Homo sapiens: one gene and its partners. The protein of the gene in region 1 purifies or fractionates together with the protein of each later gene. This does not show direct contact. Each region holds a gene or a part of one and is shown on either strand. Other genes may lie near its edges. The genes, in order: NDUFAB1, LYRM2 and ETFRF1.

Region 1 (3,752 bases):
GATACAGAGATGGATACAAAAGGAAGACATTAGCTTACATCTTCATTGAACGCTTTGCAGCCCTTATGTCCAACTTGCTGGCTCCTTCTCTGCTGCTGTCTTCTTCCCTAGGCTGTTGTGACACTGTTCTCCCTTGGTTGGTTTGTCCTCCTACCTTGTTGGGACACTTTGCCTTTCAGGCTGGAGTGCAGTGGCATGATCGTGGCTCACTGCAGCCTTGACCTCCTGGACTCAAATGGTCCTCCTGCCTCAGCTTCCTGAGTAGCTGGGACTACAGGCATGAGCCACCACCCCTAATTTTTTGATGTCTGTCTTCTTTTTAGAGACGGAATCTCCTTATGTTGCCTAGGCTAGTTGTGAACTCTTGGGCTCAAGCAATCCTCCTGCCTCAGCCTCCCAAGTGCTGGGATTACAGGCATGAGCCATCACACCTGGTGTGCCTAACCCTTAAATGTTGGTGGGCTCCCGAGTTCTCTTACCACACATGCTCCCTGGACTCTTCACTCCTGGTTTCTGTTATTGCTGTATATCCCAGACCTCCGCCTCCAGTCCTTGTTCATCTCATTTGGACCATTGCTCATGCTACCTATTCCCTGCTGTGAAATTTCCTCTCCTCAAATCCATCCACTATGCCAACTTCAGAGCAACTAGTCACTCATTTACACCCTTTTTCCCAAAAGGAGCTAAGGCAGTTTTCCTGGGTATAAAAATACCAGATGATATAAAATAGAAGGTAAGGAAAAAACAAAAAAACAAAAACCAAGGGCAATGGCCTAAAATGCAGCCTGGAAGTCTTATACTTGATCCAGGTAGGCCCCGAATCTACACTGTCTAGCAGATGGAGCACAAAGATAATTTCCAGCAGTTCTATGGGGCATGGTACGCAGATGAAGACAGCACTTGTACAAAAAAAAGCTAGCTATTCCAGGACTGGGACCAGGACCAGACAAAGTCCCAGTCCCTTCCCATGGCCCTTAAGGCTCTGCAGACCTGGGCCCTCCCTCTTAGCCTCCAAGCCTGTCATCTGTGTACCATCTCCCAACATGAGCTGATGTCTTCTCACATAGACACAGGCACTGCACTTTCATGACTTTTTTTTTTTTTTTTTTTCCAGACAAGGTCTCTGTCACTTAGGCTGGAGTGCAGTGGCATGATCATATATCAGTGCAGCTTCAAACTCCTGGGCTCAAGCAATCCTTCTGCCTCAGTCCCTTGACTAGCTGGGATAACTGGCCTGCGCTACCACGCCTGACCTCATTTCGTTTTCTTGACCTGTTCTTCCCTCTCCTTGAATTATCAGTCTCAGCTCTTTTCCTCACCAAATCCAAGTCTGGCATCCTCCTTTCCGGCCACTCAAGGACTGAGTGACAACTTTTGTTATTGCATCAGCCTACAGATACTTCTGTCATGGTGCTTGCCATATTTTTATTTCAACTAAAATGATCTGTGGATTGGTCTTTTCCATTAGAGTGTAAGCTTCTTTTGGGGGAAGGTTGTGTCTTATTCATCTTTGCATTTCCAGCCCATTGCACAGTTCTTGGCACACAGGTAAAGTTCCCAGGCTTCTGAGACAGTCGTGTAAATAAAGGCAAGGCATTGTGAAACAGGTGTGTGTAGTGCAAAAGCAAAAAGAGATACTTGACCAATCTCTCAGTGAACGTGATCTTGAAGGCCTGTGCAGAGGCCAGGAAGAGCCTGGCACTTACCTCCTTGTGGTTGACTCTTAGGGTGTCTGGAAGGGAACATTGTTGGGGGGAAGAGAGTGAGCATATCATGAAGGGAGCTGTATGCTGCAGCGAGGAATTGTGGGTATTCTCTGCAAAGGTCATAGGGAGTGAACATGAAACAGGGCTTATTGAAGGAATAAGCCCCAGGTGGCGGAGAAGGAACAGAGGTCTGTAAGCAGGAGTTTTGGAGACAGGTCAGGAGTTCATTTCCAAACTGTTGAGTTTGAGAGGTCTGGGCTGCCTGTGTAGAGTGGACCAGTCGGCAGTTTGTAGAGACGGCCTTTAAAGCCCTCTCCTTAGCCTCCTCTGAGTTTGCCTCAGGCAGAAGTGAGCCCCAGTGGAGTACCGGGATTCTGATGGAACCTCATCTGTTTGAATTACTAGCCCAGAGGGTCATCACTCTTTACCTGCAAACAGTACCTTCTCTGATGTCTGGGAGAGGTGGTTTATTTCCCATATACTTGTTAAGTGTAGATCTTGGGGAAGAACAACTAACACCAGAAACATCACATGTTGGCTGTTGGGGAGGTGCTTGTCCATTTTGTATCCCTTTTATTTTTTCCCAATCAACAGAGATCCAGTTAGAAGGAGCAGCAAGACCTTCCAGGAGGCCATGCTGGAAGGACATGGGGTGAGGAGGATACCTAACCTTCCCTTGCCTCAGTTTCTCATCTGTAAAAAGGAGGGTGATAGTATCATGGATCTCACCAGAATACTGGAGAGCTGAAGAAAGATGATGTGTGTAAAGTGCAATATCATAGCCTGAGCTGATAAGAAATTAATGGAGGCCGGGACGTGGTGGCTTATGCATGTAATCCCAGCACTTTGAGAGGCTGAGGTGAGTGGATCACTTGAGACCAGGAGTTCAGGACCAGCCTGGCCAACATGGTAAAACCTCATCTCCACTAAAAATACAGAAATTAGCCAGGCATGGTGGTGCACGCCTGTAATCCCAGCTACTTGGGAGGCAGAGGCATAAGAATCACTTGAACCTGGGAGGCAGAAGTTGTGGTGAGCCAAGGTCACAACACTGCACTCCAGCCTGGGCAACACAGTGAGACTCTGTCTGAAAAAAAAAAAAAAAAGAGACCAGAGGCAGGAGCATGAGAGGGTAGTAGGATCAAGTATTTTGGGGCTACGCTACAGCCAAGGTATCAAACTAGCTGCTGCTGGTCATTGTTCTCAGGATCCTACTAAATAACCCTAAATAGCACTTACTGTGTTAAGTGCCAGCCAATGTCCAAGCCTTTACTTCATCTCACTGATGCTTCACAACAGTCCTGTGAGTGTGGTACTGTTGTTTATCCCCATTTTACAGATGAGGAAACTGAGATGTAGAAGGTTAAGTAACCCACCCAAGGCCAAACAACTAGTGAGAGCCAGCACCATGGTGCAGGCATAGGTGGTCTAGTTTCAGCGTCTGAGCTCTTGCCCACTAACTTACTGCCTCACGCTGATCCTGATGCAGCACCCACTCTAGATTGGCATGTGGCCTCCAGTCAGAGACTCGTTTAATTTAATCACATGGTGCCCACCTGGCCCTTGTAGGTACTTGCTGGAGCTGCTGAGGACAATGCTGACAACCTAGTTGGCCTCATGGGTAGTTGTGTACGAACATAGAATATACCCTCACCAGGGGTCTTGCTTTGTTGCCCAGGTTGGTCTGGAACTCCTGGGCTCAAGCGATCCTTCCACTTTGGCCTCCCAAAGTGTTGGGATTACAGGCGTGAGCCACCACACCTGGCATCGTACCATTTCTTTTTTTTTTTTTTTTTTTTTTTCTTTTTGGAGACAGAGTCTCACCCTGCCGCCCAGGCTGGAGTGTAGAGCCATGATCTCAGTTCACTGCAACCTCTGCCTCCTAGGTTCAAGTGATCCTCCCACTTCAGCCTCCTGATTAGCTGGGATTATAGGCACACGCCACGATGCCCGGCTAATTTTTGGACTTTCAGTAGAGATGGAGGTTTCACTGTGTTGGGCAGGCTGGTCTTAAACTCCTGACCTCAAGAGATCCGCCCACCTTGG
Region 2 (3,701 bases), on another chromosome or scaffold:
GATGTCACAAGATCCAATATATCTTATGATAAAATTTATTGAAAAGTCAGTTTATTTAAATAATGAATAATTGGCTAACAGCTCTGGAAACAATGAGATCAAATGAGAAAGATTCAAATTGTTTGTTATTTTCTGTATTTTCAGTCAAAAAATCAGTTATATAGTGATTTTAAAGCAGATTAATGGAAAAAAATTCATGTAACAATTACCTGAAAATTTATAACCTATTCCTAATCAAACCCAATTATATCAGAATACCTTTCTGAATTTGAGATTTTTGCTCTACATTTTATAATGAATAAGGCTATTTTTTGAAAGTATTTCATTTTGAATTCTGTCATTAACCTCAAAAGCTTTCTACTGCTTTGCGGTGAAGGCAAAATATTCGATAACTCAACTTAGGCCCCACTGTTCCCCAACTTCATGGAGGCCAGAAGACTTTACTTTGTTCCATAATGAAATATAAACACAGAACAAAGTTGTAAAAGTAGCATGGATATGTTGAAACTTTGGACAAGCTTCTTGTCCTTTGGAATATGGGATTTATATTCATCTCCTCAATATCCCATGTATGCACAGAAACTTCAGTTCTATTTCTATAGACACAGGAACCTAGTGACTATTGAACGTAATTGTAATAAAATGCTGCTCATTGAGCCAAAGAGAAGAAATGATTTATTAACATGGGGACACCAAGAAAAACAAAGTATGCTTTTATTCCCTTTGTCAAGCTCAGTTTTAGGGTTTTTTCTTTTTTTTATAGTGACAATCCATAGATATAGACATTCCTAAAAGAAAAATAATTCAGTAGATATATGTCACTGTTACCTGAATATGGAATGAATTTGATGTTTTTTATTTTGTTGAGACAGGGTCTTGCTCTGTCACCCAGACTGGAGTGCAGTGGCATGATCACACCTCACTGCAGCCTTGGCCTCTCAGGCTCGTGATCCTCCTGCCTCAACCTCGCAAGTAGCTTGGGACTACAGGCGTGTGCCACCAGTCCTGGCTAATTTTTTGTAGATATAAGGTCTCATGATATTGCCCAGGCTGAATTTGATGTTATTTCAAGTTGATTTTCATGTGTTTGGGAGCTTGTCTTGTTCTCAACTACTACGCAGGTAGACAGTCTTCCCCCAGAGACTCATTAGATTGCAATATAGAGGCACTTTCTCATTTCCCTATTGTTCCTAATACAGAATTGTAGAGCTGGAGAGTACCTTCAGTTTTCTAAATCTATTCTCAAACAGGATATCACTAACCTCTTTAGAATCATTCCTCAGTATACATCAATTTATTGAGAACTGCCTAATACTCAAGAAATTAAATCCTGAGTTCAGTAGGCTGTGTTCCAAGCAGGAATTATTTTCACTTACCAAAATATCTCCTATTACCTCAAGGTATCCTTGTTGAGGAATGCTGAAAACTAAATTTTAAGTATCAAGTCTAGACCATAGAGTGCTTTGGTGGGAGTATTTTGATTACCTCCTACCCATCAGAAGCAGGCAGCTAATATTGTGAACTGAGTATTTTTGTCAAAAGTCACAGGGAAGAGACTACAGAAGAATGAGAAGGGTCAAAAGGACCTAGTGTGGCTTACTACATGGATCTTGTCTCTTGGAGGTCTGTCGTAGAAGAAGAAACAAATAGAGGTGATGAAGACACAGAACAGGCTCAGTCAGCATCCTCACCCAGAGATGGCAACATCTATTAAGACCAATGCAATACCTTTTCATCTTCAGCAAATGTTGTTTCATCTGTTTTTGATCCTTGGCATTGTCAAAAACTTAACTGCAGGTCCAGTGTATATTTTTCCTTATTTTTCCCTTTTAGCTATCTGCTAAAGTGAGTAAATGCCACAACTGTACTTTTCCAAAGAAAAAGAACTATTGACAACTTATAGCCTGTCATGCAGGTCATGTTTCAAATCAAGGCTGAAATTTTCAACAGCTGTGGGAAAAACTAAAACACAGAAATACTGTACAGTATTAGTGTTTTTTTAAAGAAATTGTTAGTGCATTATTGAGTATACTAAATATCTGTGATTAAATAAATTAGTTCTAACTTTTGATTTTGGGAGCCCAAAATAAAGGGAGTGTTGTTTTCATGGTTATGCCTTGTTTGTGGAGTCAAGTGTTGATATACTTGAGGCATGTTATGTGTCTTCTAATTAATATTTTTATCACCTTGAATTTGTGTCTCTTCCAAGCATTAAAGATACTATGGATCTTAAATTCCTTATTAAAAAAATGCAAGTGTGAATACTTTGTTTAGCTTACATTTTAATTTATTGTGGTTGACCACATTTTATGGCTCCTGAGTGCCTTCACCCAGCTACACTTTACCTTGTATCTATAAAAGTGTAATTTAGAGTAAATACATTGGCTGTAAAGTCGCGATCAGGTGCTCTCCACCAAAAGCAAAACAAAACTGCTGAAATGTGGCAAGGTTTCTCAGTGCAAGCTTAAATGTTTAAACTGTTGACCATTTGGAAAATACTGGACAAAGGGGAAGGACAAAACATCATTTGCAATAGTTAAAGGTTATGCAAGGCAAGGCAACATTATACTTTTTGACTAAGTTATTAAAAGTTAAATGCATTTCTTCTTTGAAGTGTGGATTATAAAAGCCAATCAAAGACAAAACCAGTTTGAAAAACCTTTTGTATTCTACAATACCTTTTATGAGTAAGAGTAAAACATACATTTCTTATTTGTAATTTTATTTAAGGAGAAATACTCTTTCCCTTTGATACGACTATAATATTATAAACAGCAAGGAATATGTTCTGCTTTCTGCAATTTTAGAAAGTCATTCCATTCTGGGTGACAGAATGAGGTAAGACTGTCTCTTTAAAAAAAAAAACAACTCACACCTGTAATCCTAGCACTCTGGCCACCGAGGCAGGTGGATTGCTTGAGCCCAGGAGTTTGAGACTAGCCTGGCAACAAAGTGAGATTCCCCCTCCTCTCTCTGAAAAGTAAAAAAAATTAGCCGGTCATGGTGGCACATGCCTGTGGTCCCAGCTAAATGAAAATCTGAAGCAGGTGGATCTCTTGAGCCCAGGAGCTCAAGGTTGCAGTGAGCCATGTTCGCGCCACCACACTCCAGCTTGTGCAACAGAGACCCTGTCTCAAAAAAAAGTCATCTGTGTGTTTCTTGCAGGCACATCTATGGCAATGCTTGTACCATGAATTTAAAACTTCTAACTTGATGGCACTTTTTTATTTTTTTTGAGACAAGAGTCTCACTCTTTCGCCCAGGCTGTAGTGCAGTAGTGTGTTCTCGGCTCACTGCAGCCTCTGCCTCCCGGGTTCAATATGAGGCAGCCCTCCTGAGTAGCTGGAATTACAGGCACGTGCCACCAGGTTAGGCTAGCTAGTGGCCTAGCTAGTCTCGAAATCCTGACCTAAAGTGATCCACCCACCTCAGCCTCCCAAAGTGTGTGGATTACTTGTGTAAGCCACAGTGCCCGGCCTTACCTGCTTTAAAAAACAAAAAAACTTAGGTTTTCTTGGAGTCTGTGCTAGTTGAATCTTGCAAATGCAAACCACATACGCTCTTTAATGAAAACCTTTCCATGCACACCACTGTTAGGAAGAGCATCATTAAATCACTGACTTCTACACCCATAAAAGGATGATTTTGAGTTTCAAGATTTTAGATTTACTAGAGATAGCATGTATCTATCAATCATGTCA
Region 3 (3,752 bases), on another chromosome or scaffold:
AAGTGCTTACTGTTCCCCCAATTTATTAGCAATTATAAATTGACTTAAGGTCCATTTGCATTCCGCCAGGAATGCTCTCCACTCCCTATTTCTTTTTTTCTCTTTTTTTTTTGAGACGGAGTCTCGCTCTGTCACCCAGGCTGGAGTGCAGTGGCACAATCTCGGCTCACTGCAACCTCCGCCTCCCAGGTTCAAGCGATTCTCTTGCTTCAGCCCCCTGAGTAGCTGGAATTACAGGTGCGCGCCAACACGCCCGGCTAATTTTTGTATTTTTAGTAGAGACTGGGTTTCACCATGTTGACCAGGCTGGTCTCGAACTCCTGACATCGTGATCTGCCCGCCTCGGCCTCCCAAAGTGCTGGGATTACAGGGGTGAGCCACCGCGCCAGGCCTCCACTCCCTATTTCTTCCCACCATATGTGGAAAACTCGTATTTATACTTTAAAACAGGTTGAAAAGCACCACTCTCCTTCCCTTGTTTCCCCTCACTGAAATTTCATCATTTCCAACTGTGTGTTACCCCATTTTAGATGCTTCAATTGTTACAGTTGTAAAGCTGTATTGTAATTAATTTGTTTAATCTGTATCCTATAAGCAGAGTTGTCGTCATGTTCTTCTTGGTATTCTTGGCTTCTAGCCCAGTGCCAAGTACAAAGAATGCACTCCACATTTTTCCCTTAATTAATGAATTAAATAAGTAATTACATTCTCCACTTCCTCTGGTTTTAATTATAGAAAATGTCTTGATGGAAACCACATTTAAGAAAATCAGAGATACTCTCATAGCTACATGTTGGCCTGTCTCCTTGCTGAAAACATGGCAGTTGAGGAGTGCAGAAAAACAAAATGAGAAGCCTTATCATATTTAACTAATGCAGGATGAGAACCTTGAATCACAAAACAATTCATATTCCCACAAAAGACGACATAAAATATTTTTTCAAAGCAGAGTAAATTGCATTAGCTTTTAATTAACTGCTGGAGAAGTACTAAAACATTTCCGCCAAGTTGCAATAAGAAAATTTAGTGGGAACGTCTATCACTACTGAAAGTTACTAGGTTGGGACCAATTTTCAAGCTTAGCAACATTCGAGATCAGGATACCGTGTGACAGCTTTGACCATCTCCCGTTTGCAGAAACTGGTTTGGGACTCCTACCTGTCCGCCTGGTCCAGGTAAGGAAAGCCATTGCTGAGAAGAGGGCCGACCCACCCCAAGGTATGAGTTATTTCCCAAACCGACCCGCTTCGCTGTAAAATATGACTGGCTCTTGATTACATTATTTAACACTGGTGAAGCAGAATCAGTGGTCGCCCCTCCACCTGTCTGCCTCATTTGCCTTGCTCACCATTAAGAGTCAAGCTCCACTGCAGTAGTCCGCAGAGTCGGAGCAGAAATTGTGTGGACAAACGCTCCCGGGTTGCCCGGACGACAGGCCCCGCCCACTTGAGCTCCAGGAAAAGAGCGCAGCCGCGCGGAGGCTCTTCCGGCCGGCGCCCCGCCCCCTTTACTGACAGGTTGCCCACCTCCCCCAACGCCACCCCGCTTCGCAGTAGACGGACAGAGGAGTCGTAGCGGTCGAGGCTTTTGCGGCTCCGGCGTGCCGGAAAGTGCGTGAGTGCCGCCGCCGGGGAGTTTTGTTCCATTTCCCGGATCCTGGGGTCTGGAGGCGAAATATGCTCTGGGCGAGGACCACCGGGTGTGGGAAGAGGGTTCTGAGCGTCTCCTGACGTTGACGGTTTATTTCCTAGAGTGTGTTGGGTCTTTCTGTGAGGGTTTCGAGAAGGAAACAGGCATGCGACTGGTTCATGCAGCGGACACCCGGTGGGAGGCCTGGGCCTCTGCGGTTTAATCCAGCAGGGGGATGGGGCTCATTCCGCAATTTAAAGAGAGAAATAAGTTGGCTCCAGAGGGTTGGTTATTTTAAGATTAATGACCTTCGGATTCTTCTTTCTGCTCTATTGTTTACTTTCTGTGCAGCGTACGCGTCCTTTTTCCTAAGAGCGCCCTAAACAAGAATTGAAAATGAAGCAATTCCTGGCTAAAATATTCCTTAACATGAAGATCGCTGAGGCCCCAAAGACTCATTAGTTTCCCGAGGTCACAGACTAATTTTACTAACCACACAACCTTTAGAATTTCAGTCTCCTCCCACATGAAGAAACGCCGGCACCTTACACCGACAGGAAAACTACAATTAAGTGAGGCTGTTCTCCTCAAGCCCGACTGAGTTCTCTGTAATTGTAGGGCATACCTACACCCTGTTTTAGCATTATGAGACCTGAAATACTTTTAAATTACTGGCACCATTTCTCATCTCTGAATTATAAGTTTATAATGCTCTATCCCTTCCAGTGTTATTGACTACATGCATTATTCATAGATAAGTAGTAGGACTAAGCTAGTCTTTGTGGGTTAAAGTGTTATTATCCCTATTGTAACCTGTAACTATTATAGGTTGTGTAATAGTTATTAGCATTTTACATCCATATCCTGGTAGCAAGATAAAAACATTTTAATAGCGACTTCGTACAGAGTTCTTACTCAGTTTACCATAGCTGTTTGATATGAAAGTTAAGGCTTCCTTTTAAATTAGTTTCAGTAAAACTAATGTTTAATGATAAAACACCTCAGTCAACTCAAGTTAGGATTCATCGGGGTAAGGAGATAGTTCAGTAATCCCAAGTTACCTTAAAATAGTGGGCTTTTAGAGGAAAGGCTTTACTGAAGCTCTCACTGTATCTACCCCATGGGGAACAATGATTAACAACTTTGGCCACCACATAACCCCCAGTAAAATGACAATTTTCCATTAGCCTGGAACTGGAACTGGTTAAGTCCTAACTCCTTAGCCTAGAATGACAGGGGGAAAAAACTATCAATGGGGACTGCAACCGCTGTCTCATCCAGCGCACACATCCAAGTTTTCAGAATAATAGGGGGCTTCTCTTAGTCCTTAACTCTTGGCTCTTTACTTAAAACAGTAACCTCCATGACTTCATGCAGAGTTCAGGAGCAGCCTCAGGGCCCTGCTGAACTCAAAATTGTTTATTCACTACATTGTGAACCCAAGGAGACCTATTTCTCTTAGTGGCTAAAGTAAACCTAAATGCTTCAAGGTCAACTGCATAAAGATAAACTGCATTGCCTGGTGTGGTGGCTCACGCCTGTAATCCCAGCATTTTGAGAGGCCAAAGTGGGTGGATCACGAGGTCTGGAGATGGAGACCATCCTGGATAACACAGTGAAACCCCGTCTCTACTAAAATAATACAAAAAATTAGCCGGGCGTGGTGATCAGCACCTGTAATCCCAGCTGCTCTGGAGGCTGAGACGGGAATCGCTTGAACCCGGGAGAGGGAGGTTGCAGTGAGCCAAGATCGCACCACTACACTCCAGCCGGGTCAACAGAGCAAGACTCCGTCTCAAAAAAAAAAAAAGATAAACTGCATTAATTCATATAAGTTAACATATCAAAGAAGAACAAATTTGCCATAGCCACACTAGTTACATTTTTGCTGGGCAAGTGTTTTATGATACATAATTTGTAAAAAGACCAACAACTAAAAAGGACAACTTAAGCCAGGTCCCTGAAAGCTTTCACAAGTTACAAATTGTGAATTAAATGAAGCTGTGCTGTTAGGCATTAAACAGGTTATAGTTTGCAATTCGAAATTACATCTATGTATATTTAATTTTAAATTATGTGAAAAGAACATGGTTCCGAAGAGGTGTTTTTTGTTTGTTTTGTTT

Evidence for each region.
Region 2: the proteins of NDUFAB1 (region 1) and LYRM2 purify together in Homo sapiens (affinity purification with mass spectrometry; 5 studies listed by BioGRID and IntAct, with this or other methods). This does not show direct contact.
Region 3: the proteins of NDUFAB1 (region 1) and ETFRF1 purify together in Homo sapiens (affinity purification with mass spectrometry; 4 studies listed by BioGRID and IntAct, with this or other methods). This does not show direct contact.

Annotation. Positions count from the first base shown.
Region 1 is NC_000016.10:23,589,699-23,593,450, reverse strand, and holds part of NDUFAB1 (acyl carrier protein, mitochondrial precursor), read left to right. Parts: intron 1-2,300; coding exon of another isoform or gene 2,301-2,358; intron 2,359-3,752. UniProt on the Homo sapiens protein: Carrier of the growing fatty acid chain in fatty acid biosynthesis.
Region 2 is NC_000006.12:89,631,572-89,635,272, forward strand, and holds the end of LYRM2 (LYR motif-containing protein 2), read right to left. Parts: 3' UTR 653-3,701; downstream 1-652. UniProt on the Homo sapiens protein: Involved in efficient integration of the N-module into mitochondrial respiratory chain complex I.
Region 3 is NC_000012.12:25,193,728-25,197,479, forward strand, and holds the start of ETFRF1 (electron transfer flavoprotein regulatory factor 1), read left to right. Parts: upstream 1-1,509; 5' UTR 1,510-1,610; exon of another isoform or gene 1,611-1,614; intron 1,615-1,626; exon of another isoform or gene 1,627-3,752. Other genes in the region: DNAI7 (dynein axonemal intermediate chain 7), read right to left, coding at 1,159-1,335. UniProt on the Homo sapiens protein: Acts as a regulator of the electron transfer flavoprotein by promoting the removal of flavin from the ETF holoenzyme (composed of ETFA and ETFB).